Linked DNA regions of Homo sapiens: region 1 is linked to region 2. Evidence: fine-mapped expression QTL. A gene starts in region 2. The other region holds a variant in brackets. All regions are shown on one strand. Distances are between the middles of the regions. Region 1 overlaps GANAB (glucosidase II alpha subunit). Region 2 holds the start of CSKMT (citrate synthase lysine methyltransferase).

The links.
Region 1: its variant is fine-mapped to the expression of CSKMT in whole blood (TOPMed, PIP above 0.99). The same link has a PIP of 0.9 or more in lung.

Annotation. Positions count from the first base shown.
Region 1 is chr11:62,626,414-62,634,413 of GRCh38, reverse strand. It overlaps GANAB (glucosidase II alpha subunit), which reads left to right. Exons shown (of 24, transcript NM_198334.3): 6 at 900-969; 7 at 1,143-1,230; 8 at 1,313-1,409; 9 at 1,669-1,849; 10 at 3,231-3,384; 11 at 3,578-3,813; 12 at 3,909-4,035; 13 at 4,138-4,217; 14 at 4,457-4,600; 15 at 4,730-4,826; 16 at 5,119-5,220; 17 at 5,402-5,645; 18 at 7,061-7,125; 19 at 7,290-7,366; 3 more. Among named protein-coding and RNA genes, the nearest start is that of B3GAT3, 8.4 kb to the right of the region's middle. The variant G/C (reference allele first, on the strand shown) is at 4,709.
Region 2 is chr11:62,661,396-62,669,474 of GRCh38, reverse strand. It overlaps CSKMT (citrate synthase lysine methyltransferase), which reads right to left and starts at 4,163. Exons shown (of 3, transcript NM_001043229.2): 1 at 4,143-4,163; 2 at 3,529-3,828; 3 at 1,367-3,079. The coding sequence starts at 3,595. The coding sequence ends at 2,424. It overlaps LBHD1 (LBH domain containing 1), which reads left to right. Exons shown (of 7, transcript NM_024099.5): 4 at 1,728-1,952; 5 at 4,502-4,626; 6 at 6,142-6,239; 7 at 6,316-6,658. The coding sequence ends at 6,346. It overlaps C11orf98 (chromosome 11 open reading frame 98), which reads left to right and starts at 4,265. Exons shown (of 4, transcript NM_001286086.2): 1 at 4,265-4,344; 2 at 4,502-4,626; 3 at 6,142-6,239; 4 at 6,316-6,658. The coding sequence starts at 4,306. The coding sequence ends at 6,425. SNORA57 (small nucleolar RNA, H/ACA box 57) reads right to left here and starts at 4,053; the gene lies at 3,905-4,053. RefSeq lists enhancers at 2,816-2,915, 2,936-2,985, 3,036-3,145, 3,816-4,045.

The sequences.
Region 1 (8,000 bases), 35 kb after region 2:
TCTTTTTCCCCTTCCCTACCCATCTCCTCCTGCCCCAGTTTCTCGGATAAGGTTAATCTCACGCTTGGTAGCATATGGGATAAGATCAAGAACCTTTTCTCTAGGTAAATCCATGGCCACCGGTACTGTATCTGTTCCTCTGCCCTTACCCATTCCTCACTCTAGCCTTTGGGGGGAGGTGCCCCAGACCCTTCCAGCCTTTCACTCACCCCACTTTCCCCTGCTGTGTGATGTCTGGTCCTGTTACCTGTTACCCTGGCTGGGAGCCCCCAGAAGAAGGAAGGTGAGATACTGAAAGTCAGGTCCTTCGGGAATGTAGGGAGCTTATTGCTTTGCCAGGGGATGGAGAGATGCTGCCTATTGCTGGGGTTCCTGACTCTCAGCTGAGGGGCACCTGAGGTTCTGGGCAGAGCTACTTGCCCTTGAAAGCATTTTTTGGCAGAATCTCTTGAAGTCCCTATGTATGTCTGTAGAGGCTTGGTATAGTATGACCCACATGCCTTTGCAAAGCCATTGTGTCAGGCCAGGAGGCTGAGGCCCAGGGAGAGCACTTGGGGCCAGAATCTCTCAGTAGAGGCAACAGAGCCAGGATTGGCATTCATAACCCAGGCCCCTGAATCATTCTGCCTTTCTCTTCTGGGATGTTGACAGAGGCTGGTGTTCAGGCCTGTGCCTCCTGGTGGCACTTATTCCTCATTTTCCTTTCTCATTTCTCTCCCCATCCTTTGCAAACTTATCTGCTCATTGTGGGTTCCCTCTCCAAGCTTTAACATTTAGTCCCTTCCTCCAATGCCTTCGTTCCTTTGGACCCTTGGCTCTCTATTCCCCAACCCCTCCTTCCACTAGCCCCTCGTCCCTGCCCCCTCTGGATTGGAGCAGACAGCTCTCCTACCTTCCAGGCAAGGATCAAAAGACCCAGCTGAGGGCGATGGGGCCCAGCCTGAGGAAACACCCAGGGATGGCGACAAGGCAAGTTGGAGCGGGTGGGTGGTTGGAGGATAGGGCTGGCTGGGAGGGTGGAGGGGAGAGGCCCATGAGAAACTTGAACTTAGTCTCCCCATCAGGGATGGGATTTAGTTGATGGGAGCGGGGAAAGAGAGAACTGGTATGATTGGAGAGTGGTCCTCTTTTCTTCTTAACAGCCAGAGGAGACTCAGGGGAAGGCAGAGAAAGATGAGCCAGGAGCCTGGGAGGAGACATTCAAAACTCACTCTGACAGCAAGCCGTATGGTGAGGGGCTCGGGTTCCTTGGGCTGGGGTGCAGGGCTCCTTTCCAAGCAGAAGCTCTGAAGCTTGTTTGTTTTTCTTCCAGGCCCCATGTCTGTGGGTTTGGACTTCTCTCTGCCAGGCATGGAGCATGTCTATGGGATCCCTGAGCATGCAGACAACCTGAGGCTGAAGGTCACTGAGTGAGTCCTATGGTGACATCAGGAAGATGGAGGTGGGCAGGAAGGAGTCAGGCCTTTAGGGAGATGGGTGTGCATATTGGATACTCTAGGCAAGCATGGGTCATTTCTTGTGTCCAGAATCACCTTTGGTGATAGAAAATTTTTTGAGAAAGGACAAGAGGAGCCTTTGCTTATCTCTCACCTGTGTCTGTGGAGTGGTGTTAGCATATAACGCAGCCTGGGGCCAGTTAGCAGCCCAAGTCTGTCTGTTTGCCTGCAGGGGTGGGGAGCCATATCGCCTCTACAATTTGGATGTGTTCCAGTATGAGCTGTACAACCCAATGGCCTTGTATGGGTCTGTGCCTGTGCTCCTGGCACACAACCCTCATCGCGACTTGGGCATCTTCTGGCTCAATGCTGCAGAGACCTGGGTTGATATATCTTCCAACACTGCCGGGAAGGTGAGAGCACAGGCACGGGGAAAAAGGAGGGAGTGAAGCTTCCAGGCCTTGAGGCAAATAGGTATACTAGGGGCATTAGCTATTTGGGGACTGGGTTTAAGAAGGGGCTGTGGGCCTGGTGGGCAGCATTTGAGTTCCCTAATCACTCCCAGGTGACACGCTCACTCACATTCTTAGGGAAGGCATTGCCTATTCTGGGCTGACGGAATGCACTTATTATCAGTGTGTTACGTGCTAGGTACTCTTCTGGGTGCTGGGGATATAGTGTTAACTGAGGTTGAAAAGGTTCTGGGCTGGGTGTGGTGGCTCATGCCTGTAATCCCAGCACTTTGGGAGGCTGAGGTGGGCGGATCACCTGAGGTCAGAAGTTGGAGACCAGCCTGGCCAACATGGCGAAACCTCATCTCTACTAGAAAAACAAAAATTAGCAGGGTGTGGCGGCGGACTCCTGTAATCCCAGCTATTCGGGAGGCTAAGGCAGGTTAATTGCATGAATCTGGTTGGTGGAGGTTGCAGTGAGCGGAGATTTCACCACTGCACTCCAGCCTGGGTGACAGAGTGAGACTCTGTTTCAGAAAAAAAAAAAAGAAAGGTTCTGACTCACAGGGAGGAAGACACGTTAAACACATAACAAAGGAGGCAAGATGGGGCCGGGCATGATAGCTCATGTCTGTAATCCCAGCACTTGGGGAGGCTGAGGCAAGAGGATCGCTTGAGGCCAGGAGTTCGAGACCAGCCTGGGCAACATGGCGAGACCCCATCTCTATAAAAACGTTTGAAAAATAAAAATAATAAGCAAGATGATGCCGGGTGCAGTGGCTCCCACCTCTAATCCCAGCACTTTGGGAGGGCGAGGTGGACAGATCACAAGGTCAAGAGATCGAGACCATCCTGGCCAACATTGTGAAACCCTGTTTCTACTGAAAATACAAAAGTTAGCTGGGTGTGGTGGTGTGCGCCTGTAGTCTTAGCTACTCGGGAGGCTGAGGCAGGAGAACTGGTTGAACTGGGGAGGTGGAGATTGCAGTGAGCTAAGATCACACCATTGCACTCCAGCCTGGCAAAAGAGTGAGACTCTGTCTAAAAAAAAAAAAAAGAATGCAAGATGAGTTTGGGGTGATTAAGTGCTAACAAAGACATGAAAGAGAGTCTTTGTTAGCACTTAACCACCCCAAACTGGTGGGGTAGGGGTGGGGGCTGTACTGCTTTAGATAGTGTGGTCTAGGAAAGCCTCACTGAAGAGGCCCCGTTTAGTCTTACCGAAAGCAGCTTACATGAGCCAGCTCTGTGTGGACTCTGGGAGAAAATTGCTACTTTTTGTCTTGGGGTTGGAAAATGGGAGGGCAGGAGGTGTCTGACCCCTTTGTGGTCACCTATACAGACCCTGTTTGGGAAGATGATGGACTACCTGCAGGGCTCTGGGGAGACCCCACAGACAGATGTTCGCTGGATGTCAGAGACTGGCATCATTGACGTCTTCCTGCTGCTGGGGCCCTCCATCTCTGATGTTTTCCGGCAATATGCTAGTCTCACAGGTACATGGTTTTCCCTGCCTCATTCTTCTGCTCTTTTCTTGTCGGGTGATTCTATGTGTTTTCAGAGATCCTGTGCCCCAGCTTGTTTTCTAGGTTTATACCCCTCAGCCTGCCTCTAGTTCACAAGCCTCCCTCAGTTTCTGGGTGTTGGGCCTGATCCTCGTTGTGACCCCCATCCCTCATGAACCTGCAGGAACCCAGGCGTTGCCCCCACTCTTCTCCCTCGGCTACCACCAGAGCCGTTGGAACTACCGGGACGAGGCTGATGTGCTGGAAGTGGATCAGGGCTTTGATGATCACAACCTGCCCTGTGATGTCATCTGGCTAGACATTGAACATGCTGATGGCAAGCGGTATTTCACCTGGGACCCCAGTCGCTTCCCTCAGCCCCGCACCATGCTTGAGCGCTTGGCTTCTAAGAGGCGGAAGGTAAGGGGTTGCAGTCACGCTTGGTCTTCTCAGGGTAGGGCTGAAGCATAGTTTAGCCTTAAAGAGACCTGAACACCCCTGTTCCTTGCCCCCAGCTGGTGGCCATCGTAGACCCCCACATCAAGGTGGACTCCGGCTACCGAGTTCACGAGGAGCTGCGGAACCTGGGGCTGTATGTTAAAACCCGGGATGGCTCTGACTATGAGGGCTGGTGCTGGCCAGGTAAGCAGACCCAGAATTGAGGGAGAGTTGATTGGCCAGCGGGGTAGAATGGTGGCTCTTTTGCCCCTTAGGGGATTGAGAGCCACCCTTAACTTCTCCCAGGCTCAGCTGGTTACCCTGACTTCACTAATCCCACGATGAGGGCCTGGTGGGCTAACATGTTCAGCTATGACAATTATGAGGTAGGGAAGGCCTCTCCCCATGACCTGCGTCTGTCTGTTCCACCTGCCTCCCTGAATCTCTCTCGGCTTGCCAACCCTTCTATGGTTGATTGCCTGCAACATATCAGGGGGCCTTGATGATCCGGGGAGGGCCCTGAAAAATGCATCTTTTTAGATTCCTAGGAGCTCTCTTCTCTGACACTGTTTGTCTTCTTCCTCCCCTCTGTCCTTCTGTCCCCATTTTCTGCCCACGTTCCCAGGGCTCAGCTCCCAACCTCTTTGTCTGGAATGACATGAACGAACCATCTGTGTTCAATGGTCCTGAGGTCACCATGCTCAAGGATGCCCAGCATTATGGGGGCTGGGAGCACCGGGATGTGCATAACATCTATGGCCTTTATGTGGTAAGGGCCTGAGAGAGGAGAGTTGGTGGAAAGAGGGAAAACAGCCCAGAGACTGAGGGCCTAGGGAACTTGCACCAGATGACAGCTGGCTTTTGCTCCTCACTACCC[G/C]TCTCTTCTCTCCTCACCCAGCACATGGCGACTGCTGATGGGCTGAGACAGCGCTCTGGGGGCATGGAACGCCCCTTTGTCCTGGCCAGGGCCTTCTTCGCTGGCTCCCAGCGCTTTGGTAAGGTTTAGAGAATGGAGCTGTGGCAGAAGGGTGTGAAGGCCAGATCTCAGGAGCCATGGACCTGGACCTGCCTCTCTGAGGAATGGGAGCCACACACTGCATCTGTTTCCTCTCAGCTATGCGCTTTGAAGGAAGTCAGGGTGTGGGAGGTCCACTCCTTGTTCAAATGTTCTTGTGAACTGCATCTTCAGCAGGGTTCTGGGGACCCAGAGCGGATGTGGGAGGTCAGCCATGTAAAAAGCTGAACTCCTTTACCATGTGCAAGCTCCCCACTTCTTGTCTTCCTCAGGAGCCGTGTGGACAGGGGACAACACTGCCGAGTGGGACCATTTGAAGATCTCTATTCCTATGTGTCTCAGCTTGGGGCTGGTGGGACTTTCCTTCTGTGGGGGTAAGACAGGGAGGAATTTGGGGTCTTGGTTTGGTGGGAAAGGGGCAAAGTAGAGGGCACAGGACCAAGGTGTTGTAAGCAAAGAGAGTTGAGAGTCCAAGTTAGGGCCTTGGGAAGTTTCTCAAGCAGTATCTCTCCTTCACCCTCTTTTCCAACCTGCTTCCTCTCTCTCCTCTACCAGCGGATGTGGGTGGCTTCTTCAAAAACCCAGAGCCAGAGCTGCTTGTGCGCTGGTACCAGATGGGTGCTTACCAGCCATTCTTCCGGGCACATGCCCACTTGGACACTGGGCGACGAGAGCCATGGCTGTTACCATCTCAGCACAATGATATAATCCGAGATGCCTTGGGCCAGCGATATTCTTTGCTGCCCTTCTGGTACACCCTCTTATATCAGGCCCATCGGGAAGGCATTCCTGTCATGAGGTGAGGCATTCACTTGGGCTGTGAAGAGTGGGCTGAGGTGGCTGGGGGTATTAGGGACTGGGCTTCATCTCTGGGTCTCTTTCTTCACTCACTACAGCCTTGTAAAGGATGGAAAATCATTAAGGTCAAGAGTGAAGGGGAGCTTAATGGAGATGAATAATAGTAAACATTTAAAGAAAATTGACAGCAGTCATAAGCTCTTTCAGAAAAATAAAACAGGGTAATGGGATTAGGTGGTCATAAAATCCCTTTTTGAGGCCGGGCACAGTGGCTCACACCTGTAATCCCAGCACTTTGGGAGGCCGAGGTGGGCAGATCACCTGAGGTCAGGAGTTTGAGACCAGCCTGGCCAACATGGCAAAACCCCATCTCTACTAAAAATACAAAAATTAGCTGGGCATCATGGCGCCTGTAATCCCAGCTACTCGGGAGGCTGAGGCATGAGAATCACTTGAACCCAGGAGGTAGAGGTTGCAGTGAGCCGAGATTGCTCTGCTGCATTCTAGCCTGGGTGACAGAGGGAGACTCCATCTCAAAAAAATGAAAAAAAAAAAAAAAAAAAAGTTTTGAGAAGAAGGCTGTGTGAGATGAGGCCTGAATGAGTGGGACAGACCATGTTATGTAGGAAGAATCTTCCAAGCAGAGGGAATTGCAAGTACAAAAATTCTAAAGGAGAAATTAGTTTGTTATGTACTAGGAATAGAAAAAAACAGTATGTCTTGGGTAAAGAAGCAGAAGGAGAGCTAGGAGATGAGATTAAGAAGAAAGTGTGATCTGCTCCTGGAGGGCCTTGCAAGCCAGGGTTGCAACCCAGGGTTGTAAGCCAGGGCGGTGAAACATGCAAGGAGGCTACTGGCAGGCTGCTGTGCAGCATGGTTTCAGTAGAGGGCAGAGAAGAAGCAGGGAGATGGCTTAGGAAGTTAAATGTCTAAGACTGGATTGTATAACTGAGACCTGAACCCCAACCCGACTGTCTGACTGCAAACTCCTGGGTCTTAACCCCTGTGCTGTTCTTTTCTTTTCTTTTTTTTTTTGAGACAAAGTCTCACTCTCGTCCCCCAGGCTGGAGTGCGATGGTGTGATCTTGGCTCACTGAATGCACTCCGCCTCCCGGGTTCAAGTGATTCTCCAGCCTCAGCCTCCTGAGTAGCTGGGATCACAGGTGCCTGCCACCATGCCCGGCTAATTTTTGTATTTTTAGTAGAGACGGGGTTTCACCATGTTGTTCAGGCTGATCTCGAACTCCTGACCTCAGGTGATCTTCCCGCCTCGGCCTCCCAAAGTGTTGGGATTACAGGTGTGAGCCACCACACCCGGCCTATGCTGTTCTTTTCTTATTGCCAGTTCCTGGAGGAGCATTTCTGACTTGTGCCAAAATTGAAAAGTTTTCCTTTATTGTCTTTCTTCCTTCCTAGGCCCCTGTGGGTGCAGTACCCTCAGGATGTGACTACCTTCAATATAGATGATCAGTACTTGCTTGGTGAGAAATGAGGATAGTTGGTGGTGGGTTGGCTTTGGGCCAAGCAGCACTGCGGATGCCCAGGGAGGGACTAGTGAAGCTGGTGGTGCAGAGGGCAGGCACTTTGGTGTTCCCTGTTCTGGGAACTAATCCCCCTATTCAGAGTTGATTCTGGCATATTTTAGGGGATGCGTTGCTGGTTCACCCTGTATCAGACTCTGGAGCCCATGGTGTCCAGGTCTATCTGCCTGGCCAAGGGGAGGTGAGTTAAGGAAGGGCATGGTGGGGAAAGATGGTGGAAGCCAAAGGAGGCAAACAGGACGGGACCCCTGTGCACTGAGTGATCCGGTATCTTACCTCTTTTGTCACTCACAGGTGTGGTATGACATTCAAAGCTACCAGAAGCATCATGGTCCCCAGACCCTGTACCTGCCTGTAACTCTAAGCAGTGTGAGTAAGCCTGGTCTGGCTGCCGGTTCCATCTCCCTGTAAATTTCCAGAAGGGGAGGGAATGTGTGCCTTAGGGTCCAGTACCTATGTGGGCATACATGAGTAAGCAAAACATGCTGTGGGGCCCAAGGTTGGACAAGGGGGCAACTTCATCCTGGCATTGCTCTTGCCCTAGATCCCTGTGTTCCAGCGTGGAGGGACAATCGTGCCTCGATGGATGCGAGTGCGGCGGTCTTCAGAATGTATGAAGGATGACCCCATCACTCTCTTTGTTGCACTTAGCCCTCAGGTAAGTGCATAGGCAGCGAGTCTCCTCAGCCATTTGCCTGCCTTCCTAGGACTCAGTTCTCTGGGGTTGTGCCCCTCACTCCCTCTTGGGCTCAGGCGCTCACCTATCCCACTTCTTGCTCAGGGTACAGCTCAAGGAGAGCTCTTTCTGGATGATG
Region 2 (8,079 bases):
TTGTAGAGAGCAGTTTTGGTATCAGAATGGGTGCCATCCTTTAATCTGTACTTTCTTTTTCTTCTTTTTTTTTTTTTTGAGACTGAGTCTCGCTCTGTCACCCAGACTGGAGTGCAGTGGCGCGATCTCAGCTCACTGCAAGCTCCGCCTCCTGGGTTCACGCCATTCTCCTGCCTCAGCCTCCCAAGCCGGCCAGTCTTGGGGTAATTTTATCTTTTCCTGCAGCAATGTAAACATTTTGAAAGTACAGATTAAGGCTGGCCGCGGTGGCTCACGCCTGTAATCCCAGCACTTTGGGAGGCTGAGGCGGGCAGATCACAAGGTCAGGAGATCGAGACCATCCTGGCTAACATGGTGAAACCCCGTCTCTACTAAAAATACAAAAAATTAGCCGGGCGTGGTGGCGGGCGCCTGTAGTCCCAGCTACTCGGGAGGCAGGAGAATGGCGTGAACCCGGGATGTGGAGTTTGCAGTAAGCTGAGATCCCACCACTGCACTCCAGCCTGGGCAAGAGCCAGATTCTGCCTCAAAAAAAACAAAAAACAAAAAAAATTACCCCAAGACCAACTACCTAAAAATAGTTTACATATTCGATACCTTCTCTTCTAGACTTTTTTCATCTCTGTGTACTGTTTTTTTGTTTGTTTGTTTTGGTTTTGGTTTTTTTTTTTGAGACAGAGTCTTGCTCTGTCCCCCAGGCTGGAGTGCAGTGGCAATGACCTCTGCTCACTGCAAGCCCTGCCTCCTGGGTTCGTGCCATTCTCCTGCCTCAGCCTCCCGAGTAGCTGGGACTACAGGCACCCGCCACCACGCCCAGCTAATTTTTTTGTATTTTTAGTAGAGACAGGGTTTCACTTTGTTCGCCAGGATCTCCTTACCTTGTGATCCGCCTGCCTGGGCCTCTCAAAGTGCTGGGATTACAGGCGTGAGCCACCGCGCCCGGCCCCGTCTGTGTACTGTTACAGAAGCTACTTTTTTTTTTTTTTTTTTTTTTGAGACAGAGTCACCCTCTGTTGCCCAGGCGGAGTGCAGTGGCAGGATCTCGGCTTACTGCAACCTCTGCCTCCCAGGTCCAAGCAAGTCTCCTGCCTCAGCCTCCTGAGTAGCTGGGGCTACAGGTTCAGGCCACCACGCCCGACTAATTTTTTTTGTATTTTAGTAGAGATGGGGTTTCACCATATTGCCCAGGCTGGTCTCAAACTCCTGAGCTCAGGCAATCTGCCCGCCTCAGCCTCCCAAGAAGCTACATTCTTTTGAGCATTTACTATGTACCAGGTACTATGCTAAACACTTTTACTTCATGATTTTCAGAACAACCCAATGAAGGTACTTCCCCTTTATAAATGAGAAAATTGAGGCTGCGAGGTTAGGCTCTTAGTGATATAATTGCTCTATTTTTTTATAAGCAAAAAATACCACAGAAATTAATTTTTAGCTCAAGTGCAGCAGCTTATCATGGCCCATTGCAGCTTTGACCTCCCAGGGTTCAAGCAGTCCTCCCAGCTCAGCCTCCTGAGTAGTTGGAACTACATGCCTGTGCCACTATCCCGGGCTCATTTGTTTTTGTAGAGTTAGGGGTGTCACTTTATTGCCAGGGCTCAAGCAATCTGCCCACCTTGGCCTCCCAAAGTGCTGTGATTATAGGTATGAGCCAGCATGCCTGGCCTAGTTTTGTAATTTGATAATATATCAGTAATATTTTTGTCCCCTCTCTTCCTCCATCCCAGGCTGGGCTTGGAGCCCACAGGACCCTAGAAGTCCTTTAAGAACATTTAACGCTGGACTCAGCTGGGGGCAGGACCAGGATGAAGAAGATGCTTGTTGGATTCTTGAGGACACAGCATGTCTGGAAGCCACCAACCACTGTCCCTTCTGGGACTCAACAGGCTCCCGTGTTTGTAGAAGTGGCTTTGTGGAATATTCCCATCTCCTGCCTCCTAATAGCTTTGAGGGTAAGTATTGTTCCCTCCCCCTCAAATATCTCATCCAGGTTTATGAAGCTCCTTATACCCATCCTCTTACAATCTCCTTTTACAGGTGACAAAAATGAGGCTTACAGGTTAGGCCACTAGATTATACAAGTCAGTCAGCGCAGGGGTTTTGATTCAGTTCCTGTCTGCTGCTTTTAGGAGCTCCAGTTAGTTGAAACTGGGGAATGACCCAATTGTACCTTCTCTTTTCAGCATTCATTTTGTGCTAAATATTGCGCACATCATTGTATGTAATCTCCGTAACTCCAAGTTATTCTCACTCTGCAGATGAGTAAACTGGGGAACAGAAACATTCAGCAATATGGCACCCAGCTAGTAAATGTGGAAGCCAGGACTCAAATTCTCACTTTGCAGCCAGATAGCTTGCAAAGACAGTTCTTCAGCCCTCTCCTTGCCCACAGAAATACTAGGGTCAGGACTACTAAAATGTCTTTAATGAGAGCCTTGAATCAAGTAAGCAAAGTAGGTGATGCCCCTGAACGGGCCTAGCTCCTGCACAGTCACAGTCCAGCCATAGGACCCTTGTTCCAGGCAGGGCAGTCGCACATCAGGGTCCTCATCTGAGAACTGAATCAGGGTCCCCTGAGGGTTTAGAACCCTCAAGCATTCTGATAGAAGCTGGTAAGCCCTAGGCAGACCTCCCCGGGCAACAGCATCCCATGTGCCTTTGTCCAGCAGTAGTTGGAAAGAGCCTGAAGAAGCCACAGCCCCCAGGTTCTGAGCATCGGCGTGCATGAAGTGGAGGCTTGAGGCAGGGTGTCCAGGGCATAGAGGTGTTTGGCCTGGGCCACCCTCCAGGAGGCTATTCATGTGGGCCACAGCCACAGGAGAAAAGTCCACCCCCAGCACATCCACTGGGTGTGGAGATTTGGTGTAGAGGCCTGTACATAGGCTGGAAGTCCCACAGCCCACATCCAGCACTCGCAGAGGACTGGCAGCCTGTGCCTCCTGCAGCAATGGCAGTAGGAGCCCCTGGACTTCGTCGTATCCAAAGAACCAGTCGAAGGTGGGGACAGTGCCCAAACGAGGCTGGGCATGCAGCCGATCCCAGAGACAGCGGTCCGCCAGGCAACTATCAGCCAGTGAGCCTGTGGGCACGGTTGGAGGGTGTCACTTGGTCTATGTCGCCACTGCAAAAACGTCGTATATACACACTGGCGTCTTTTTTTTTTTTGAGACAGGGTCTCACTCTGTGACCCAGGGTTGAGTACAGTAGCACAATGATGGCTCACTGAAGCCTCCACCTCAGCCTCCTGAGTAGCTAGGACTATAGGCGCCATCGTGCCCGGTTAATTTTTTTTGTAGACAGGGTCTCGCTATGTTGCCCTAGGTTGGTCTCGAACTCCTGGGCCAAGCGATCTGCCCGCCTCGGCCTGGCAAAGTGTTAGCATTACAGCCGTGAGCCACCACGCACGGCCCACCGTAGGGTTTGAGAATCACAATTTCAGGGACTACACTCCTGACTCACGAGGAACCCACCTTACCCTCCCCACTCTGCCCCCACCTTGCCCTCTCCACTCTGCCCCCACCTCCCTACCCGCAAAGGGGCGGCACGTCCCCATCATCAGGCTCGGCAAGTGGAGCATTCGACGCAGCGCGGCCATCTGGAGATTCGGGTAAGTTCGACCAGAGAAGCTTATGTGAAGCGTCCACCCTACTCCAGCCGGAGAGGCCTGAGGTCCAGGGGAAGATCTGCAAATTCCGCGTAGCGAAAGGCGGCGTACAGCTTCCCCGAACTCTGCAGTCCCGGAAAAAAGAACGCGGACACAGACTATGGTAGGAACGGCCTTTATTGGCTGCAGCGGGAAGTGGAGGAGGGTATACAGCGTCCGCAGACCTGAAATCAAATGAGAAAGTGTGAGCACCCCGATGGAGGAGCCAGCTGGATCTCGGTTGTCCTTCTCCGAGATTCCCGGTGTCCCGGCGTTTGAGGATAGAACCAGCGGATGGGAAGCCGCCAGCACCGAAGACATGACGCCGAGGGGGCCAGAGCCCTTTCCCTCTTCCTCCGTACATTACGGGGAGCGGCACCACAAGCCCGATCCCCGCCAAGAAAAGGAGGGTCCTGAGACCCCGCCCAGAGCCTTCCACCCGGCACCCCCACCACTCCCGGCCGCCCAATCTGGCTACTACAGCTAAAACCACACTTACTAGCTCACCACCCTCCGAAAGGCCTCCCGCACCGCGGAGCTCCTTTATATAGCCCGAGGACCCGCCCCCGAGTTGCGATTGGCCCGCGGAAGGCCGGGGCGGAGCCCCGCGGATCCGGCGCTGAGCGGAAGTACGGACCGTGAACTGGAGTGGAATCGCGACTATGGGAGCTCCGGGGGGAAAGATCAACCGGCCCCGAACGGTGACTGTGTGGGGGCCGCGACTTTGTTTCCTCAAGCGTTCCTGAGCCCTTTTATCTCGCACGAGATGGGATCAGTGAGGGGCCGGGGCTGCCTGGTGGAGGGGCCCCGGGTCGCGGCGAGCCCACTCCATCTGATTCGCATCTTTCTCCCCGGCAGGAGCTGAAGAAGAAGCTGTTCAAACGCCGGCGGGTGTTGAATCGGGAGCGGCGTCTGAGGCACCGGGTGGTCGGGGCTGTGATAGACCAAGGGCTGATCACGCGGCACCACCTCAAGAAGCGGGCGTAAGTACTAGACCCTCTTCCTGTTGGTCGTCCCCACCGAGTCTTCCTTCCTCCCTGCAGAGCTCCGGAGCAGCTTCACCTCTCAGCTCACCTTGTGCACTGACGCTTATGCGGGGAATGTCTGTCGGCTGTTAGTTCCTAAGCTCTGATAGCCTCTCACAATACCTGTAGCAGACAACCTTTCTTTGGGTTTTGGATTCTGTTAAGAATCTCAGGAAAGCCGGGGATGGTGGCTCATACCTGTAATCCCAGCACTTTGGGGGGCTGAGGTGGGCGGATCACCTGAGGTCGGGAGTTCGAGACCAGCCTGACCAACATGGTGAAACCCCGTTTTTGCTAAAAATACAAAAATTAGCCAGGCGTTGTGGCCGGCACCTGTAGTCCCAGCTACACGGGAGGCTGAGGCAGGAGAATTGCTTGAACCTGGGAGGCGGAGGTTGCAGTGAGCCGAGATCACGCCACTGCACTCCAGCCTGGGCCACAGAGTGAGACTCCGTCTCAAAAAAAAAAAAAAAAAAAAAAGAATATCAGGAAATCTGTTGGCTCTCCATTCTCCAAGTAATGTTATACATTCACACAGATTTTTATAAGTAAACTTATTTTTACATACAGAAAAGTGCACACATAGGCGCATAAAACTCGAAGAATTTTCCCAAAGGCACTCATAGGATTTCACTTGTAAGTTTCAAGGCCTCCTGTGTCTTGAGGAAGAGTTCCCATCCCATTAATTACTTTCTGTGTCCTTTTTTTTTTTTTTTTTTTTTTTCCTCTTTTTTGAGACAGAGTCTCCCTCTGTTGCCCAGGCTGGAGTGAAGTGGCATGATCTCGGCTCACTGCAACCCCTGCCTCCTGGGTTTAAGCTATTCTCTTGCCTCAGCCTCCCGAGTAGCTGGGATTACAGGTGCTCCCCACTGCACCCGGCTAATTTTTGTATTTTTAGTAGAGACGGGGTTTCACCATGTTGGCCAGGCTGGTCTTGAACTCCTGACCTCAGGTGATCCGCCCACCTCAGCCTCCCAAAGTGTTGGGATTACAGGCATAAGCCACCGCCCCCGATCTATGTCCTTTCATTAGCTTCTTCAATGTAAATATTTAGGGTTTCTATTACTATTTATATTATATTTATTTAATACTTTTCCTTTTTTTTTTTTTTTTGAGACGGAGTCTCGCTTTGTCGCCCAGGCTGGAGTGCAGTGGCGCGATCTCGGCTCACTGCAAGCTCCGCCTTCTGGGTTCACGCCATTCTCCTGCCGCAGCCTCCCGAGTAGCTGGGACTACAGGCGCCCGCCACTGCGCCCAGCTAATGTTTTGTATTTTTAGTAGAGACAGGGTTTCACCGTGGTCTCGATCTCCTGACCTCGTGATCCAGCCGCCTCGGCCTCCCAAAGTGCTGGGATTACAGGCGTGAGCCACTGCGCCCAGCCTATTTAATACTTTTTCTATAGCCAGAACTATTTGTGTGACCTCAGTTGGTTCAGGTTAACCTAGCTCTCTTTATTTCCACTTACCCATCAGGTCCAGTGCACGTGCCAACATTACACTGTCAGGGAAGAAGCGCAGAAAACTCCTCCAGCAGATCCGGCTTGCCCAGAAAGAGAAGACAGCCATGGAAGGTGAGGCTGGGACAGAGGTGGGTGAGGGGAATCCTGGATTTATTTGGGATAATACTTCCTTCTTCCCTTTACTCAGTGGAAGCCCCTTCAAAGCCAGCCAGGACTAGTGAACCACAGCTCAAAAGGCAAAAGAAGACAAAAGCCCCCCAGGATGTAGAAATGAAGGACCTTGAAGATGAGAGCTAAACCTCTTCCACTAGAAGATTCTCAACTGGAGCCAGCCTTCAGACTCAGTGGTTGTTTCAGAGGACTTTGACAAAAGCAAGGCCCCTTTTCACTCTCCAGATTTCCTCCTACCTAATGGCCTACTGACCTCCCCTAGAGGGATGTCTTTGGGAGGGAAGAAGGTACAGAAGAAAGATTGGAGAAGGGCCTCTCTAGCAGTCAACTCCATTTGTAATAAAGCCCTAGCACTCTGAGATGTGTGTGATTAAATGTAGGAATGGGGATGGGTCATGAAAAGATTGGGGAGTATGGAAACAAGACAGTGAGGAAGCAGTACCCACAGCTTCCTTGTGCAAATGCAACAAGATGCCAGCCTCTGCCCTCAAGAGTGGTGGTGCCTGGCCGGGTGCAGTGGCTCACGCCTCTAATGCCAGCACTTTGGGAGGCCGAGGCAGGTGGATCACCTGAGGTCACAAGTTCGAGACCAGCCTGGCTAACCCCGTTTCTACTAAAAATACAAAAAATTAGCCGGGCGTGGTGGTGCACGCCTGTAATCCCAGCTACTTGGAGGCTGAGGCAGGAGAATCGCTTGAACCCGGGAGGCGGAGATTGCCTACCGGGGTATTGCTTGAGGCCAGGAACTCAAGGCTGTAGTGTGCTGTGATCTCATCTGTCTCCTTAGTGAGTGATACTCTAACTTTCCATTTATGACAAAGATACAGATTATTCGAGAAGTTGAAGTTACAGTGAGCCAAGATTGTCCCACTGCACTCCAGCCTGGGCAACAGAGTGAGCCATTGTCTCGAAAAATATAGATAGATAATTGTAGGGATAGCAGAGGTAAAGGTCCTGATACCAGTTCTGCCACTGCCTCTGTGTGACTAAGGTAGGCAAGACACCTTACCTCTTCTGTCTTACTTCTTTTGCTGCATTATATTTTCATTTTAATTTATATATATATATATTTATTTATTTATTTTATTTTAATTTTTTTTTTTTTGAGACAGAGTCTCACACTGTAGCCCCGGCTGGAGTGCAATGGCATAATCTTGGCTCACTGCACCCTCTGCCTCCCGGGTTCAAGCAATTCTCCTGCCTCAGCCTCCTGAGTAGCTGGGATTACAGGCGCCTGCCACCAGGCCTGGCTTATTTTTTGTATTTTTTAGTAGAGACAGGGTTTCAGTATGTTGGCCAGGCTGATCTTGAACTCCTGACCCTGTGATCTTCCCACGTCGGCCTCCCAAAGTGCTGGGACTACAGGTGTGAGCCACCGTGCCCGGCCACCCCTGACTAATTTTAAAAAATTTTCTGTAGAAATGGAGTTTTACCCAGGCTGGTCTCAAACCCCTGGACTCAAGCGATCCATCCACCTTAACCTCCCAAAGTGCTGGGATTACTGGTGTAATAATAATAAAAAAAAAACTTTCAGTAAAGAGAAGAGATTAGTAAAATGAGCCCTGGTATATGCCCTCTACTTAGATTTACCAGTTATTAACATTGTGCTACACTTCTGTATCTGCATTTTTCTTGTCCTTATTGAATGAAATCCTTTGAAAGTCAAATATAGACAACATGAAACCTTACTCCTAAGGACATCCTTCTATGTAGCCAAAATACTGTAATCACAGCTAAGACATTTAACATTGATTAAATACCTAATATGTATTTTTATTTT